Linked DNA regions of Homo sapiens: region 1 is linked to region 2. Evidence: fine-mapped expression QTL. Tissue or cell type: skeletal muscle. Region 2 holds a variant in brackets; the other region holds the start of a gene. All regions are shown on one strand. Distances are between the middles of the regions.

Region 1 (11,262 bases), 110 kb after region 2:
TTCCGACCTTAGGTGATCCGCCTGCCTCGGCCTCCCAAAGTGCTGGGATTACAGATGTGAGCCACCGTGCCCGCCCACAATGTTTTATTTTTTAAAATATGTATATTGACTATATATGTTTTCACTTTGCAGTTGTTCATGGAGTTATACATTTATGTTTTGCCCATTTTTCTACGTTAAGATTTTTTAACAGGATATAACAAGCAAGTGTTGCTGAGAAAATGGCCCCATCTCTAGTAGACTGGAGAGTCTACTATTTCACACCCCTGGGAATGTGATGGGAATACAGCAACACAACAGCTACTCTAAGGAAGAGCAACTTGTTTACTTAGAGAAATATGTCCAGAGAGAGCAACCTGTGTCCTGATTCCAGAGTCCTAGCTTCGGGAGAGGCATTGTGTCCCTGGGATGGAGTCTTTGAGGTCTGTCTTTGGGACACAGCTAACTGGCATCCCACGGAAGAGACCCCTAGCCTGTCTACTTATTCTAGAATGGCTTACACCACAAAGCTCTTTCTGCTACTGAAACACTGGGTTTTCCATCAAGTATAGCTGGATAAACTAATTTCTGAAGCAAAGGCAGACTCCAGGGATTTTTGAGAAAGAAAAGGCAGAGTCTTGCTCTGTCACCCAGGCTGGAGCGTGGTGGCACAATCTTGGCTCACTGTAACCTCTGCCTCCCGAGTTCAAGCAATTCTCCCACCTCAGCCTCCCGAGTAGCTGGGACTACAGGTACCTGCCACCACGCCCAGCTAATTTTTGTATTTTTAGTAGAGAGGGGGTTTCACTGTGTTGGCCAGGCTAGTCTTGAACTCCAGACCTCATGATCCACCCGCCTCAGCCTCCCCAGAGGTTTTGTATTTGTGAACATATGCCCTCAAAACATAACTAATACGTATTAATATTTCCTGTGTGTGCATTTAGTGTGGCTTATGCTCAGCTCTCACAAATTTCTTTTTTCTTTTTCTTTTCTCGGCTCACTGCAACCTCCGCCTACTGGGTTCAAGCAATTCTCCTGCCTCAGCCTCCCAAGTAGCTGAGATTACAGGCTCACACCACCATGCCCAGCTAATTTTTTGTATTTTTAGTAGAGATGGGGTCTCACCCTGTTGGCCAGCCTGGTCTCAAATTCCTGACCTGAGGTCATCTGCCTGCCTCGGCCTCCCGAAGTGCTGGGATTACAGGTGTGAGCCACTGTGCCCAGCCATGTTTTAAATTTTTAAGAGCCCTTTTCATTGTTTGAATTTTTTATGGTAAATTATTCTTCTTTAATGGATGTAATATCTTCTCATATCTTTAAGACTAATAGAATTTTTTTTTGAAGTTTTCTTCAAAACATTTCTGCACACTAGGTTTCCTTCAGTTGCATTTTTTTTTTTTCTTTTCTTGAGACCGAGTCTTGCTCTGTCGCTCGGTCTGGAGTACGGTGGCGCGATCTCAGCTCACTGCAGGCTCTGCCTCCCAGGTTCCAGCGATTCTCCTGCCTCAGCCTCCTGAGTAGCTGGGATTACAGGCGCACACCACCACGCCTGGCTAATTTTTGTATTTTCCACAGAGACAGGCTTTTGCCATGTTGCCCAGGCTGGTCTTGAATTTCTGGCGTCAAGCTATCTGCCCACCTCAGCCTCCCAAAGTGTTGAGATTCCTGGCATGAGCCACCGTGCCTGGCCAGAAAATTTCTTAAAAGTGTGTGGAACCCTTCCAAGCTGTTGACACCTGGGAGTTTGATCCTTGGACTTGTTTGATTTTCACAGAAAGATGTTCAGGAAAATAAGCAAGATGAAAATGATCTCAATGATGCCTGAATGGTTCATTGACTGAAACATCAAAGGTTGAGGTCACCCAATCAAGTCACGGGTGTAACTACCAAGTTTGTTCAGACACAGGGAAAATGACAGCACAGGACAGTTTGTGGACAATGATGTTAAGATGCACCCCAACCTCAGAGATGCTAAAATGAGAAAAAAAAAGAAATGCATCTTAGAATCTATGAAATAGGCCAGGCGCAGTGGCTCATGCCTATAATCCCAGCACTTTGGGAGGCCAAGGTGGGTGGATGGCTTGAGCTCAGGAGCTCGAGACTAGTCTGGGCAATATGGTGTAACCCCACCTCTACCAAAAATACAAAAAAAAAAAAAATAGCTGGGCATGGGGGCACATGCCTGTAGTCCCAGCTACTCAGGAGGCTGAGACTGGAGGATCGCTTGAGCCTGGGAGACAGAAGTTGCTGTGAACCTTAGCCTCTACTCACACCAGAGACAAAAATTAATTTGAAATGGATCATAGAATGAGTTCATGTCCTTTGTAGGGACATGGATGAAGCTGGAAACCATCATTCTCAGCAAACTATCGCAAGGACAAAAAACCAAACATCGCTTGTTCTCACTCATAGGTGGGAATTGAACAATGAGAACACTTGGACACAGGAAGGGGGACATCACACACCGGGGCCTGTTGTGGGGTGGGGGGAGGGGGGAGGGATAGCATTAGGAGATATACCTAATGTAAATGATGAGTTAATGGGTGCAGCACACCAACATGGCACATGTATACATATGTAACAAACCTGCAAGTTGTGCACATGTACCCTAGAACTTAAAGTATAATAAAATAAAAATTAAAAAAAAAGTATTACAACCTTGTACAGAACAGAAAAAAAAAAAGAAATGGATCATAGACCTGAATGTAAAAGCTAAAACAATAAAACTACAATAAAACATAAGAACATATGTTTGAGACTTTGATGTAGATAAAGATTTTTTAGATTGGATGCAAAAAGCACTAACTATGAAGTAAAATGTTAAATTAACAAGTCTCTGCTCATCAAACGGCATCATTATAATAGCCAAACACTGAATATATTTTCAAATGTCCATCAAGGAGAACTGATAAATAAATCAAAGTATATTTATACAATGGAATCTACTCTGTAATATAAAAGAATAAACAAGTGATACATACTGCAACATGGATGAATCTCCAAAATATCATGTTGGCTAAAAGATGTCAGAGACGATACCTATTGCATGGAATAATTTGTACAATGTCCAAACACAGGCAAAAATAATCTTAGATTATAGCAATTAGAAAGTGGTTTTTTTTGAGATGGGGAGAATTGACTGGGAAATTATGAAACTTTTTAAGTGATAGAAATGTTCTGTGTCTTATTTGGAGTTGTGGTTACCTGAGTGAATACCACTCTCAAAATGTTCAAATGAACACTTAAGATGTGTTCATTTTACTGCTTGTAATTATACCCCAATCAAATTATCCTGAATTCTCAGCAAACTAGGAAGAAAGGAGAACTTCTTTAACTTGATAAAGGACATCCAAAAAAAAAAATCCTGCAGGTAAAATTATACTCAATGGTGAGAAATTAGAAGTTCTCCTGCTAAGATCAGGAAAAAGTCAAGGATGTCCCCTCTCACAACTGCTATTTAACATAATACTGGAAGTCCTAGCTTATGAAATAAGACAAGAAAAGGAAATAAAAGATAATTGAATTGGGAAGAAAGAAAGAAACTGTCTTTGCGCTCAGATGACATGATCATCTATGGAGAAAATCAGAAAGAATTGACAAAAAAAAGCCTATAAGAAGTGATTATAGCAAGTTTACAGTATATAAGGTTAATATACAAAAGTCTATCACTTTCTTATATACCAGTAATGAACAAGTGGAATTTGACATTAAAAACATGTACCATTTAGCACCCCCACACAATGAAATACTTAGGTTTAAGTCTAACAAAATACGTATAAGATCTGTATGAGGAAAAGTACAAAACTCTGATGAAATAAATCAAAGTACTAAATATACGGAGCGATATTCCATGTTCACAGATAGGAAGATGCATTATTGTCAAGATGTCAGTTCTTCTCAACTCAATCTACAGACTCAACGCAATCCCAATCAAAATCTCAGCAAGTTATTTTGTGGATATTGACAAACTGATTCTAAAGTTTATATGGGAAGCAAAAGACCCACAGTAGCCATAAAAATACTGAAGGAGAACAAAGTCAGATGATTGACACTACCCAGTCTCAAGACTTACTATAAAGGTACAATACTCAAGACAGTGTGGTATTGGTAAAATAGACAAACAGATTAATGGAATAGTACAGAGCCCAGAAACAGACCCACACTAACATAGTCAACTTATCTTTGACAAACGAGCAAAGGCAATACAATGGCGAAAAGACAGTTTTTCTTCAACAAATAGTGCTGGGACAACTAGATATCCACAAGCAAAATAGTGAGTCTACACACAGACCTTACACCCTTCACAAAAATTAACTCAAAATTAATCATAGACCTAATCGTAAAACGCAAAAATATAAAACTCCTAGCAGATAACATAAGAGAAGGTCTAGATAACCTTGGGTTTGAAGATGACTTTTTGGATACAACACCCAAGATACAATCCATCAAAGAAATAATTGATAAGCTGGACTTTTAAAAACTTCTACTCTGAGAAAGACACTGTCAAGAAAATCAGAAGACAAGCTACAGACTGGGAGAAAATGTTTGTAAAAGATATATCTGATAAAGGACTGTTATCCAATATATAGAAAGAACTCTTAAAACTCAACAAGAGGCCAGGAGCAATGGCTCACACCTATAATCCCAGCACTTTGGGAGGCCGAGGCAAGTGGATTGCTTGAGTCCAGGAGTTTGCGACCAGTCTGGGCAACATGGCAAATCCGCATCTCTACAAAAAATGAGGCAGGCATGGTGGCACGTGCCTGTAGTCTCAGGAGGCTGAGGTGGGAGGATCATCTGAGTCCAGGAGGTCGAGGGTACAGTGAACCACGATCGTGCCACTGCACTCCAGCCTGGGTGACAGAATGAAATCCTGTCTCAAAATTCTTTACTGCCTCCATAGTTTTGCCTTTTCCAGAATCTCCTATAGTTGGAATCATACAGCATGTAGTTTTCAGATTGGCTTCTGTTATTTAATAATATACACTTAAGGTTCCTCATGTCTTTTCATGGCTTGATCCTCATTTCTTTTTAGGTGCTAATAAAGGAATTAGGGGGGTGGTAAGGATGGGTCAGCTCCTTTCCCCATCCAGCGAAGAAACCCTGCTAGGGTGAGAAAATAGATGGGAAGTTGAACGATGGGATGGGTGTCTTTTGGTCCCTGATTCTATTAAATGGGCCATGACAACCATCTCATTATACCTATCTCTTAGAATTAAGAAAAAAAAACAATCGGGAGCAATTCAACAAATCAAGTCAAATTATGGGCTTCCGGCACAAGAGGGACATCCAAGAACAGAGTGACCAAATGTGGTCCTTCTGATGAGAGTGCTCAGGAAAATGCCTGGCTGGGGGTTACTGCAGAGAGTCTGTGGTCACCTGCAGGGGCTAGTCCAGCCTCTGCAGGCACCACGACTGCGCTGGTTTGGGCACCTCAGTGTAAAGCTCACGCAGCAGCCCAGGATTGGGTGGGGGAAGGAGGGAGAGAGGGAGAGAGAGGGAGGGAGGGAGAGAGAGGGAGGGAGGGAGAGACAGGGAGGGAGGGAGGGAAGGAGAAAGAGAGAGAGAATGAATCACCAGAGCAAACCGAAGAGTGAATGGGAGACAGAGGGTAAGGGTGAGCGAGGGCAGGAGAGGAGATCCAGTAGGTCTTTCTGGAGTGGCCAGAGGGTCCCCACTCTCCCGGCTCTTCTCGGCTCCACCCCGCCCCCACCCCACTGGGGTCCTCACCGCCCCTCCCCCCGCCTCCCGACGCCCCTCCTTCCCTGCTCGCCCCCACTCTTCTGCCAGGCTCCCCGGCCGCCCACTGCTCCCTCCCTCCCGCCGCCCCTCTTCCCTCGCGGCTCGGCGCGCGGAGGCCCCGTGTGTCCACCTGAAGGTCCCCGGGGTGCGTCTGGCCGCCCGTCGGACCTTCGCTTTGGGGACTGCGTTTTATCCACGATAAACCATTTCCCGAGAAAGGGGTGAGCTCTGCTGCTGCCTCCGCGAGAGCAGGCGCCGGTTCAAGTCCTGCCGCCCCCGCCCAGCCCTGCACCCGTCCAGGCCACCCCGACAGCCGCGGCCTCGGCCGTGGGCAGGACGGGAAGGCTGCGAGGCCGGGCGGAGAGGCGCCCTGAGGCCGGAGCGCGTGAGGACGACCTTCCCTCGCTGGAGACGCCGCCGCCGCCGCGCCTGGCCGGGCTGCACCGGGGTCTGGGCGGAGGGCGCGGGCGCGCGGGGCCGCGAGGGGAAGAGCAGAAGCGGAGGCGAAGGCGAGGGGCGCCGCGCACCTGTCCCGGGCTGCACGGAAGCGGCTTCCAGTGGGGACTGGCGGTCCCTCCCGGCCTTCAGGGCCTACTCGCGGCTCTGAAACCCCAGTGCCAGGCGCCTGTCCTGGCCCACGCTTCGTCCACCTCCCGCGGGAAACCCCTCGCAGCGGGGGTCGGAGGGGTGCCCTGGGAGAGATGAGGGGGAGAAGCATGAGACCAGGTCCTAGGGGGAAAAAGAGAAACAAAAGGTCTGATTCCCTCCCTCCTCGCACCCCCTCCGTCTGTTTCTGGCATCAACTTCTTGCCAGGGGCTCCAGGGAAGGGGAATTTGATAACCACGTAACTTCACCCTCAGATGGCACAGGCCAAGGCCTTTCTGCGGAGCGGAGCTGCCGGTGATTTCCAGAATGCACTCACCTTTCTCCTCTCTTCGCTGTCTCTCTCTTTCCGTCCCTCATTCCCTTCTTCACTTCCTTCCCTTCTTCCCGCCCTCTGTTTTCTCTCCCTTCCTCCCTCCACCTTCCACCCCCCAACCCCTCCCCAAGATCTGAGTTGCACAGATCTGATGTAATCACACCCTGCACGGTGCCAGCAGAGAGCCATGCCAAGCTCTGATTTTGTTCTCTACTATTATTTTCCTCTTAATCCCCACTGCTCGTACTCAGAGTGGACAATTTGAGAATACAACATATGTACACACCAACGTTTCTACAGATGTGTACGTCCATGAAATCATCACCGCAATCAACATAGTGAACACATTCACCACCTCCAAACATCTCCTCCAGTCCCTTTATAATTTATTCCCCATGTACCTCTCTGCACTCCCCCTTCTCCAGGCAACCACTGATTTGTCAACACATTCATTTGTGTTTTCTAAAATTTTATGTAAATGGAATAATATACTATGTGCTCTTTTTTAAAAAAACAATTTCAACTTTTATTTTAGATTAAAGGGTACATGTGCAGGTTTGTTTCATGAGTATATTGCAGGGTGCTGAAGGTTGGGGTACAGATGATCCAGTCACCCAGGTAGTGAGTAGTAGTTTTTCAGCCCACGTTCTGTTCCACTCCCTCCCTGCCTCCCTCCCTCCCTAGTCGTCCCCAGTGTCTGCTGCTCCCATCTTTATGTCTATGTGTATTCAATGTTTAGGTCCCACTTATAAGTGAGAACATGCGTTATTTGGTTTCCCATTCTTGGGTTAATTCCTTAGGACAATGGCTGCCATCCATGTTGCTGCGAAGGACATGACCACAATGAGATAACGTCTCACACCGGTCAGAATGGCGATTATGAAAAAGTCAATAAACAACCAATGCTTGTGAGGCTGCGGGGAAGAGGGAACCCTTATACACTTGCTGGGAATAAAAACTAGTTCAGCCACTGTGGAAGGCAGTTTGGAGATTTCTGAAAGCACTTAGAACTGCTATTCGACCCAGCAATCCATTACTAGGTATATACCCAAAGGCAAGTAAGTCATTTTATCAAAAAGGCACGTGCACCCATATGTTCATCAAAGCGTTGTTTACAATAGCAAAGACATGGAATCAACCTAGATGCCCATCAGCAGTGGATTGGATGAAGAAAATGTGGTACCTATACACCATGGAATGCTAAGCGGCCATAAAAAGGAACATCCGTTCTTTCCTTCAGTCTGGCTTCCCCTACTCAATAGTTATTCTGAGATTCATTTATATCGTTGCAGGTATACCTAGTTCATAATTGTTTATTCCATTGTATATTCTATATTCTACACTCTGCTTGTCTGTTTACCTGTTCAGCATTTGGATTGCTTGCATTTGGGGATATTACAAATAAAACTGTCATGATCATTCATTTACAAGTCTTTGTATAGGTATATGCTGGGTAGGTGGATGTTTAACTCTTTAAGAAGCTGCCAAAATGTGGTTGTACCATTTTATGTTCTCACCAGTAATGTACAAAAAGTTCCAATTCCTTCACATCCTCACCAACACTTAGTGTGGTTAGTTTATTGGAGTTTTAAATTTGCACTTCCCTAAAGACTAGTTAATGATATTGAGCACCTGTCAAAATTTATTTTCCATCTATATATCTTTTTCTTTCTTTATTTATTTTTATTTATTTATTTATTTTTTATTATTATACTTTAAGTTTTAGGGTACATGTGCACAATGTGCCGGTTAGTTACATATGTATACATGTGCCATGCTGGTGTGCTGCACCCATTAACTTCTCATTTAGCATTAGGTATATCTCCTAATGCTATCCCTCCCCCCTCCCCCCACCCCAAAACAGTCCCCAGAGTGTGATATTCCCCTTCCTGTGTCCATGTGTTCTCATTGTTCAATTCCCACCTATGAGTGAGAACATGTGGTGTTTGGTTTTTTTGTCCTTGGTGATAGTTTACTGAGAATGATGATTTCCAATTTCATCCATGTCCCTACAAAGGACATGTACTCATCATTTTTTATGGCTGCATAGTATTCCATGGTGTCTATGTGCCACATTTTCTTAATCCAGTCTATCATTGTGGGACATCTGGGTTGGTTCCAAGTCTTTGCTATTGTGAATAGTGCTGCAATAAACATACATGTGCATGTGTCTTTATAGCAGCATGATTTATAGTCCTTTGGGTATATACCCAGTAATAGGATGGCTGGGTCAAATGGTATTTCTAGTTCTAGATCCCTGAGGAATCGCCACACTGACTTCCACAATCGTTGAACTAGTTTACAGTCCCACCAACAGTGTAAAAGTGTTCCTATTTCTCCACATCCTCTCCAGCACCTGTTGTTTCCTGACTTTTTAATGATCGCCATTCTAACTGGTGTGAGATGGTATCTCATTGTGGTTTTGATTTGCATTTCTCTGATGGCCAGTGATGGTGAGCATTTTTTCATGTGTCTTTTGGCTGCATAAATGTCTTCTTTTGAGAAGTGTCTGTTCATGTCCTTCACCCACTTTTTGATGGGGTTGTTTGTTTGTTTCTTGTAAATTTGTTTGAGTTCATTGTAGATTCTGGATATTAGCCCTTTGTCAGATGAGTAGGTTGCGAAAATTTTCTCCCATTTTGTAGGTTGCCTGTTCACTCTGATGGTAGTTTCTTTTGCTGTGCAGAAGCTCTTTAGTTTAATTCGATCCCATTTGTCAATTCTGGCTTTTGTTGCCATTGCTTTTGGTGTTTTAGACATGAAGTCCTTGCCCATGCCTATGTCCTGAATGGTAATGCCTAGGTTTTCTTCTAGGGTTTTTATGGTTTTAGGTCTAACGTTTAAGTCTTTAATCCATCTTGAATTGATTTTTGTATAAGGTGTAAAGAAGGGATCCAGTTTCAGCTTTCTACATATGGCTAGCCAGTTTTCCCAACACTATTTATTAAATAGGGAATCCTTTCCCCATTGCTTGTTTTTCTCAGGTTTGTCAAAGATCAGATAGTTGTAGATATGCGGCATTATTTCTGAGGACTCTGTTCTGTTCCATTGATCTATATCTCTGTTTTGGTACCAGCACCATGCTGTTTTGGTTGCTGTAGCCTTGTAGTATAGTTTGAAGTCACGTAGCATGATGCCTCCAGCTTTGTTCTTTTGGCTTAGGATTGACTTGGCGATGTGGGCTCTCTTTTGGTTCCATATGAACTTTAAAGTAGTTTTTTCCAGTTCTGTGAAGAAAGTCATTGGTAGCTTGATGGAGATGGCACTGAATCTATAAATTACCTTGGGCAGTATGGCCATTTTCATGATATTGATTCTTCCTACCCATGAGCATGGAATGTTCTTCCATTTGTTGGTATCCTCTTTTATTTCATTGAGCAGTGGTTTGTAGTTCTCCTTGAAGAGGTCCTTCACGTCCCTTGTAAGTTGGATTCCTAGGTATTTTATTCTCTTTGAAGCAATTGTGAATGGGAGTTCACTCATGATTTGGCTCTCTGTTTGTCTGTTATTGGTGTATAAGAATGCTTGTGATTTTTGTACATTGATTTTGTATCCTGCGACTTTGCTGAATTGCTTATCAGCTTAAGGAGATTTTGGGCTGAGACGATGGGGTTTTCTAGATATACAATCATGTCATCTGCAAACAGGGACAATTTGATTTCCTCTTTTCCTGATTGAATACCCTTTATTTCCTTCTCCTGCCTAATTGCCCTAGCCAGAACTTCCAACACTATGTTGAATAGGAGTGGTGAGAGAGGGCATCCCTGTCTTGTGCCAGTTTTTGAAGGGAATGCTTCCAGTTTTTGCCCATTCAGTATGATATTGGCTGTGGGTTTGTCATAGATAGCTCTTATTATTTTGAAATACGTCCCATCAATACCTAATTTATTGAGAGTTTTTAGCATGAAGAGTTGTTGAATTTTGTCAAAGGCCTTTTCTGCATCTATTGAGATAATCATGTGGTTTTTGTCTTTGGTTCTGTTTATGTGCTGTATTAAATTTATTGATTTTCATATATTGAACCAGCCTTGCATCCCAGGGATGAAGCCCACTTGATCATGGTGGATAAGCTTTTTGATGTGCTGCTGGATTCGGTTTGCCAGTATTTTACTGAGCATTTTTGCATCAATGTTCATCAAGGATATTGGTCTAAAATTCTCTTTTTTGGTTGTGTCTCTGCCTGGCTTTGGTATCAGGATGATGCTGGCCTCATCAAATGAGTTAGGGAGGATTCCCTCTTTTTCTATTGATTGGAATAGTTTCAGAAGGAATGGTACCAGCTCCTCCTTGTACCTCTGGTAGAATTCGGCTGTGAATCCATCTGGTCCTGGACTCTTTGTGGTTGGTAAGCTATTAATTATTGCCTCAATTTCAGAGCCTGTTATTGGTCTATTGAGAGATTCAACTTCTTCCTGGTTTAGTCTTGGGAGGGTGTATGTGTTAAGGAATTTATCCATTTCTTCTAGATTTTCTAGTTTATTTGGGTAGAGGTATTTATAGTATTCTCTGATGGTAGTTTGTATTTCTGTGGGATCGCTGGTGATATCCCCTTTATCATTTTTTATTGCGTCTATTTGATTCTTGTCTCTTTTCTTCTTTATTAGTCTTGCTAGTGGTCTAT
Region 2 (8,000 bases):
TAGGATAAATAGATTTCTGAGGGTCCTGAACTTTATTTCCTGAATTAAGTTGCCTCTACTATGACAATTGCTCTAATTTGTTCCTCGTGGTTTCTCTGCACATGAAAGCACATTGAGGTTTGACCACCTCGCGTGAGATATGGTGTCCAGAATTGCTCATAGCAAGTGAGAGCTGGCTCTAACTTGTTCTGCCCTCAGCTCCTGTATTTGACTGCTTTTGTAACCTAGGAATAGTCTGACAAGCCATCTTTATATGTTTTTTATTCCCATGTGCTTTAAATGACTGCCATCATTCATCTAAATCCTTTTGTTACCACTGGTGATAATAATACCTAAGCATCCCTTTATATGTTTCAAATGGGAAATTATTTAGCTGTGTTTAAAAAAAGATAGGGCTCTTTCTGGGTCCTTTATTATCCTTCTTTGTTTGGGAACAACTAACTTTAGTAATACTTTGTATAAAATGGGAAGAACAGTGCTATAATACCAATTCGTTGCTATCCTTGCTATTGCTAAGAGCTTCTAGTCAGCTTTTCAGAATATTTAAAATTATCTAGAAAATTTGGTCCTTACCAAGCTTCTCTGCTATGGAGAAAAAATGGCCAAAGGAAAACTAAGGATAGCTGAAAAGGTTTATAGGGTGGTAGTCTTTCTTTTTCATGATTAAGATGAGGAAACTTAAGGCCCAGCCAAAGGAAAATGAGTGGTCGTTCGGCTAATGAGTGGCTGAATCAAAAGCTAGAACCTGGCCCATACTTCCAGTCCAGTGACCTTTCCACCATGCTACAGTGAGTTCTTTATCTGTAAATGGAATGTTAAAAATATATTTTAAAGACTGGTGCTGTGTTTATAGTAATTATTCTAACTCAACTGACATTACAGTATGGTTTAATAAAGACAGAATTTTGACATTTGCATCCAGTAAGAAGGAAAAAAAAAGTGGCTGGGCGCAGTGGCTTACGCCTGTAATCCCAGCACTTTGGGAGCCCAAGGTGGGTGGATCACGAGGTCTGGAGATCGAGACCATCCTGGCCAACATGGTGAAACCCTGTCTCTACTAAAAATACAAAAATTAGCTGGGCGTGGTGGCGAGTGCCTGTAATCCCAGCTACTTGGGAGGCTGAGGCAGGAGGACAGCTTGAACCAGGGAGTTGGAGGTTGCAGTGAGCCAAGATTGCGCCACCACAGTCCAGCCTGGTGACAGAGTGAGACTCCATCTAAAAAAAAAAAAAACAGTTATATATCACCCCCGAAGTGTTAGCTTCATCTATTGAACCAAAAAGGTGAAGGAATATAAGATTCCTAAATTATATTGCTCTGAGATTAAAAAACTGAGGCAGTATTCGTATAGTATATCAAGATAACAATAATTTGGCCAGCAAAATGTCCATAGCCTAAAAGCACTAGGACTTAGGAAGATAGAATGTAATACAGGAGGACAGAGTTCATGACTTAATAGCAATTGCAGATACAGAAACAAACTCGTCTCACCATACCTACCACATTAACCTGGCCAGTGTCATGCAGATAGCACTTTGCTTAATTATGGCTGAGGTAATAAGACAAGTTGCTGGGTGGATGAAAAACAGTTTTGTACTGATTCAAGATTAGGGTATTACCACTAAAAAAAAGTATTCAAAACCTAAACAGTAGAATATTGCATTGGTAATATTTGTAGATAACACCTGACTTGATTGAAACAATGGAGTACACAGACCCAAGGATGCTTCTTCAGCAGCTATAGGCTGCACCAGGAAAACAAAACACTTCCATGCATATGACATCTACTGTGGGCTGGTTAGCACAGAAGGGCATAACATGGTATTGATGAGGCCTAAAATACTATACACATGAGCCTCAGTGAGAGTTTTGGTCTGTGATATTGCACAGTTCTCTTATGATTGTATCTATGCAGGTGTGTGTCTGATAACGTGTGTATGTGTGCGTATCAAGAACAACTTCCAGATGTTTGGGGTAAGACCAACAACTCTGACCAACAGATCAATTATAGTGCTATAGGTAACGTGTAGTAACAGTGGAACTTATTATCTAGCCCTTTCCTTAGCAAAATAAAAAATAATTATATATATATGAACTGATGCAGAGCAAGTAAGTTCTGGAAGAGATCTGAAGAAAACGTGGCACTGTGAGACTGAACTCAAGCCAGTTACTACATTCAATAAAGGTATTCCAGTGTGCTAGCTTGAGTCATTCATAGATTCAAACATTTTTAGAGCAAAAACCTCTTCTAGTGCTATTTATTGTACAGGGAAGACATGTGAGAGCCAAAGAGGTAGGGTGACTCCTCTACTGGCACAGAGGGTTCCCTTTTCAGTCCAGAGGCCAGGTCTCTTGGCCCCATTCAGCACTCCTCCTTTAGGCCATTCGACCTCTCCTTGAGGCTGTGTCTGAGAGAGACCTTTCCTGCATGTTCCAACCCACTTCTGAATGTTCACAGCAATAGGTAGTGTAGAGGCTAAAAATACAAATTGTGAGGACAGACCATGTAAGGTTAGAGCCTGGCTCTGTCACCGACTTTCTGTGTGGAGATGGACAGATTAAACTTCCCATGCCTCAGTTTCCTCTTCTGTGAATTGAGCATAATTATATTGCTTATCTCATAGGGCTCTTGTGAGGATCAAATTGAGTTAATACATATAAAGTGCTTAGAATAGTGCTTGGCACATAGTAGATGCTCAGTAAAGGTCAGCTATTATTATTTGTACCATTAACTTTGTGCCTGTCATGCACTGACTTCCAAAGGAGCGTGTTTAAGCATGTCTTCCTCACTCAAGGGAATTGTCACTTTGTTTCTTAATCATGCTTGTTTTTGTTCCCATGACATCTTGCACTATTTTCTGGTCATTACAGATGGTCAATAAATGCTTCATGTTTCACACATTAATTCAAGAAAACACTTTTAGACACTTTTGTTTGCAAGGAGTTTTCTCTCTTAATAATATCATAGTGCATGAGGCCAGTATTGACAAGACTGACTTCCAACTAGATTCTTCTGTACTCCAAAATAGAAAAAAAAAGCTTCGACTCATAAACAGTTACTGTCTTCTATATATGTTTATTAATAATTCATTGGGCAATTATTTGCAGAAGTCATGGGAGAATAAAATTGAGTTGTTCTAAGGTCTGAGAATATTCCAGAATAAAGACAAGGACTTTAGTTTGTTTTGCTCACTACTGAATCTCCCACACCTAGATGGTGCCTGGCACCAGTGCTTAGAGACTCTTTAAATCCTTTCAAATGAATGAATGGCAAAACACTTGAAATAGTAAAGCTAGGCCCAGAGCCCCTTCGGTCTGAGCACACAGAGTGTAGTGCAGCAGCATGCCAGAATATGTCCTGCTGTGCACCAGCCAACAGAATTTGAATTGTATTCTCCATGTTGGGGGTCTGTTCGTGTTTGCAAATTATGTTAAAAGTAAAGGAATACTTTTTTCTTAAATGATTTGTAGTCCATGGTTTCCTTTCTGTGTTTGGTCATCAAAATCTCTAGCACTGACACGGCACTCAGTAGTTTCATTAGCACATTCTAATCCCTTGGTCCTCAAATCATCCCTCGGAGGTGGGTAGCAAACATTCTCTTAATATCCCATTTTCCATGGGGGTCAAAGTGCGGTGCTTACGCCTACATAGCTAGGAGGTAGCAGAACTGGATCTTCTGTTTTCAGCTTCCTGCCCTTCCTACCATATCCGATTGCTTTGACACTGCAGTGTTCTTTCCTTCCTGCAAGGGAACAT[G/A]TAAGATAATCTAGCAGAAGCTATCCGGCTGGTCACAGACTTTTGGGTATTCAGCCATCTGGCCCACAGGCAGGCTTTATTTGGCCCTCACAATACTCATCCACAATTGGTTTAAATTTACTTTGAGGGATTGGTCAACATTTTTAAAAACCTAGTGATTTCTCATCAAAATCCTGGGTCTGCACGTTTTCTCTGGAAGCGTCCGCCAGATCTTGGTCATGCCTGGCCTTTTGGGACATGATGTGTGCTTCTCTGCCTGCTGTATCCATACGGCTCCCACTTCTTTCCTCAGCACTGAAGCTGAAGGTCAGTTTTATGCCATTTTATTTTTCACAAAATAGAATTAAGAGGAAATGGAAATGTTTCTTTTATTTATTTATGTATTTATTTATTTAGAGATGGAGTCCTTCTCTGTCGCCCAGGCTGGAGTACAGTGTCACAATCTTGGTTCACTGCAACCTCTGCCCCCAAGATTCCAGCAAGTCTCCTGCCTCAGCCTCCTGAGTAGCTGGGATCACAGGAGCCCACCACCACGCCCAGCTAATTTTTGTATTTTTAGTAGAGATGGGGTTTCACCATATTGGCCAGGCAGATCTCGAACTCCTGACCGCCTTCTCGGCCTCCCAAAGTGCTGGGATTACAGGCGTGAACCACCACACCCAGCCAGAAATATTTCTTATTCTTACTTGGGAAATAAGAAATCAAGAGGGCTGGCATTTTTTATGAGCATATTTCTTTGTAGACGTGGAGAAGGTTACCATAGGTTTAAAGTACAAAACTTGCCTATGTTAAAATCCCACTGTGAAACAGACCTGGTCCATTTGGTCATTTATGTTTCTTGTCTGGCTTGGGGAGACCTTCGAATTGGTAACATTTGAGCAGATCTATCATTCATATTGTTTCCAATTTTAAATCATAGCCTACAACTTCTACTTCCCAAAAGAGAAGCAATCATCATCATCATATTTTGCAATTGTTATTTTTGTTATTGAAATTATTTTGGATTAGTTTGAAATAGGCTCTCTATATAATTAAATGTAAAAGTGGATGGCTAACACTGGTTGGAGTTTTTCCTGCATTATCTTCTGGAGCTGTGAGAAAGATCATGTGAAATAACAAAATGCACTAGCCTAAGTTCTCGTCCACACTTTGCTTCTAATTTTAGGTTTTGGACAAGTCACTGAACTTCTTGGGGCTTCAGTTCCCCATAGGAAAAATGAGGAGATTGGATTTTATTGGATTTGATTTAAACTATGCTACTCTACCTGGCGCCTGGGAAGTCCTAAGCACATTTTAGCTGAACAAGTGAGCTCACACATGCAACTTGAATGCCGGGTTGCTGCCAGCGTATGGAGAATTGATCTTTCTCAGTAACTTAGAGAGCTGGGATAGTAACATTTTGTTTTTTGGTATGTGTGCATATATGTGATTCCATAAGCAAAAGAGGTAAATTCCCTGGCTCCAGGTCTCATGACAGAATTTCTCTCATCCCCAGTACCGAAGCTCTTGTAACTCAATCTCCGTCTCTTGTCTGCCTGCCAGTCTGACTCTGTTCTTTATCACTCATTTATGCGTTTCATCCCTTTTCAGACTGATATTTATGGACTGGCAAAGAAGTGTAACTTGACGGAGCGCCAGGTGGAAAGATGGTTTAGGAGTCGGCGGAATCAAGAGAGGCCTTCCAGGCTGAAGAAATTCCAGGAAGCTTGGTAAGGAGGATGGGCCAAGCTTTAGGAATGCTGCCGTCCTATCTGGAGCTGAGTGGTCCTTGCAGAGAGAATACTGCCGGAGCAGCAGAGGGAGGGTTCAGACCCAGCTCTGTCACCCACTGATGTGGTGTTTTAGGCTCCTCACATATTTGCCTTCTCTGCTTCCTCCACTCCTTTATAAATCAAGTAAGCTCTGAACTCTATTTATCGGGCCTCCCGAACCAGAATAGATTCAGACAGACTCCCACACTATGAACTCTCTAAGATGAACAGGAGATGTTATGTACTCAGCCTGAAACCCAGAAAAAATCATAAAAATGTCTTAACTGGTGTTTCTCTTTTCTTAGGGTCAGGGTTGGCCCTAAGTCACCAGACTTTATCACCTGTATCCAACCATCACAACTGTAAGAGCAGAGAATGTCTGCAAGGACGTGTGTTCCCTCTCAGAACACTGAGAAGGCCTCTCTGTGTGGCGTGGCTCATGACCCCAGCCCTCCTGTAGGGTGCACAGCCCATCCTCTTGGTTTCCCAGGATTTTTAGTAGAGGTGGTCAGGAGATCAAGACCATGGTGAGACCCCATCTCTACTAAAAATACAAAAAATTAGCTGGGCGTGGTGGCGGGCGCCTGTAGTCCCAGCTACTCGGGAGGCTGAGGCAGGAGAATGGCGTGAACCTGGGAGGCGGAGCTTGCAGTGAGCCGAGATCCCGCCACTGCACTCCAGCCTGGGTGACAGAGCAAGACTCTGTCTCAAAAAAAAAAATAATAATAATAATTATTATTATTATTGATCCTTCTGCCAATGATGTGAGACAGTCAGGGAAGTTGGGGCTATCCTGTTTCAATGAGAAACTGCACATCCATCTAGTTTAAGGGTCTCTTAGGTGTTTGAATGGCTGTTGCATTCAGATCTTCTGACTCCTATTCCGATACTATTTCTTGTTGTATCATACTGCCCCTGGCACCTAATGCTTACCTCCCAGCAAGCAGAGGATCCTTAAATTGAGTAATATTTGGGCATCTGGCCATGTCAGTAAGCCTACTAAAATTCTTCCAGAGTTCAGGCTGGAGAAGGGAATTTTGAGTTACCCTTATCAATCAGTCAGGCAATGCAGAGGTACAGGTTAGTATCTTTTCTGTGCATAGCACTGTCCTAGATTTTGTGGCGTTCTAGATTTTAAGAAGGGGGTAACATGTGAGTCGTGGTTACCGGCCTTAAACAGTGAATTAGGGAGGCCAGATTATCACACACGAAACCACAACATCTATTGTCGCGCCACCCCAGTGGCACATGGGAGTGTACACCAGCAGATACAACATCATGTTTAGATGTGTCGTGGGAATTTAGAGGTGATGGCATCAGCATGGCTGAAGTAGTTAAAGAAAGGCTTTCTAGAGAAGGGAAGACATAGGTTGGACCTTGAAGAATGGGTCAGGTTGCCAAAAGAAAAGAAAGCAGGTTTGAGGCAGTATTTTCAAGTAAAGCAAAGACACAAAGCAGGAAATTATGCAATATATTCAGGACACAGTAAGTGGGCCCATGAATAAAATTTAAGCCTTATCTTATTCTTTAGCAATGTCACATGTTTATTCTAAGTTAAAAGTTATTATGGACTAGATAAACAGACTAAACCTAGTGCCATGTTGAATTGTACAGGGACTCTGCTTTTTAAAAATCAGCTGTGGGATGTGCTACAGAAATCACAGCATGAGTTACCTAACCTCAAGCCTTTTGAAAATCTCCGGGCGCTTATTTCTTAACCCCAGCTCCTAAAATTACTTTCCAACAGGCAAAAATTCCTTTGTAACATCCAGAGGGATGAGCCCCCAGGCACGTTGGGTTCAGTGTGTTTGTTCCTTGGTGACTTTCTCTCATGGTGACCCTTGTGCTCTATTCCACAGCATTCAGGATTTTAATACATAATGGGCCCTTTTTTTTAAAAAAAAAAAATCAAATTCCACATTAGCTGACCACTTTTTCATTTTAAAATACAGATTTCCACCTAGCAATAAGAAGGAACACCAAGTCCTTAGGTATCCAGGTAGGAGAACTCCTCAGTGTTGGAGAAAGGGCTCTCCCCGGCTGGGTGGATGCGGCCTTACCCTCATCTGATCCATGCAGTCCACGGCCCACTCTATGCAGCGTCCCCACCACAGGCCTCCCATCTGGCCCCAGCAGTGTCTCTCACCACTCTGCCCATTCCTCCCTGGCTGCACCCTGCAGTCCCTCCTTTCACTATCACCATTGTTACCCAACCAATTCGTTTCTGAATGGCTTTTCAGTGGGTTTTCTCTCCCCCCACGTTTATGTTTATCTCATTCTTTCCTGGAAAAAAATAAAAGAAGTTTTACTCTTAGGTGAAACTAGTGAAATGACATTGACAAGGATATTATCATTCATCTTTTCAGTGAAGTGCAGCAATTCTCCAACTTTTTGGTGTCAAGACCCCTTGGTCTCTGAAAAACTCTTGGAAATGCCAAAGAGCATTTGTGTGTGTTATACCTATTGGTATTTACTGTATTCGAAGTGAAAAC

Alleles and levels. Positions count from the first base shown, and alleles are read on the strand shown. Sizes are in standard deviations (SD) of each study's normalised expression.
With allele G in place of A in region 2, the expression in skeletal muscle of the gene that starts at base 6,698 in region 1 is higher (large effect, 1.4 SD a copy in GTEx).

The links. PIP is the estimated chance that this variant, and not a neighbour inherited with it, causes the effect.
Region 1: it holds the start of CERS3-AS1, and the variant in region 2 is fine-mapped to the expression of CERS3-AS1 in skeletal muscle (GTEx, PIP above 0.99).

Annotation. Positions count from the first base shown.
Region 1 is chr15:100,368,375-100,379,636 of GRCh38, reverse strand. It overlaps CERS3-AS1 (CERS3 antisense RNA 1), which reads right to left and starts at 6,698. Exons shown (of 5, transcript NR_120374.1): 1 at 6,645-6,698.
Region 2 is chr15:100,482,016-100,490,015 of GRCh38, reverse strand. CERS3 (ceramide synthase 3) reads left to right here. Exons shown (of 12, transcript NM_001378789.1): 5 at 5,348-5,466. Among named protein-coding and RNA genes, the nearest start is that of CERS3, 43 kb to the left of the region's middle. The variant G/A (reference allele first, on the strand shown) is at 3,758.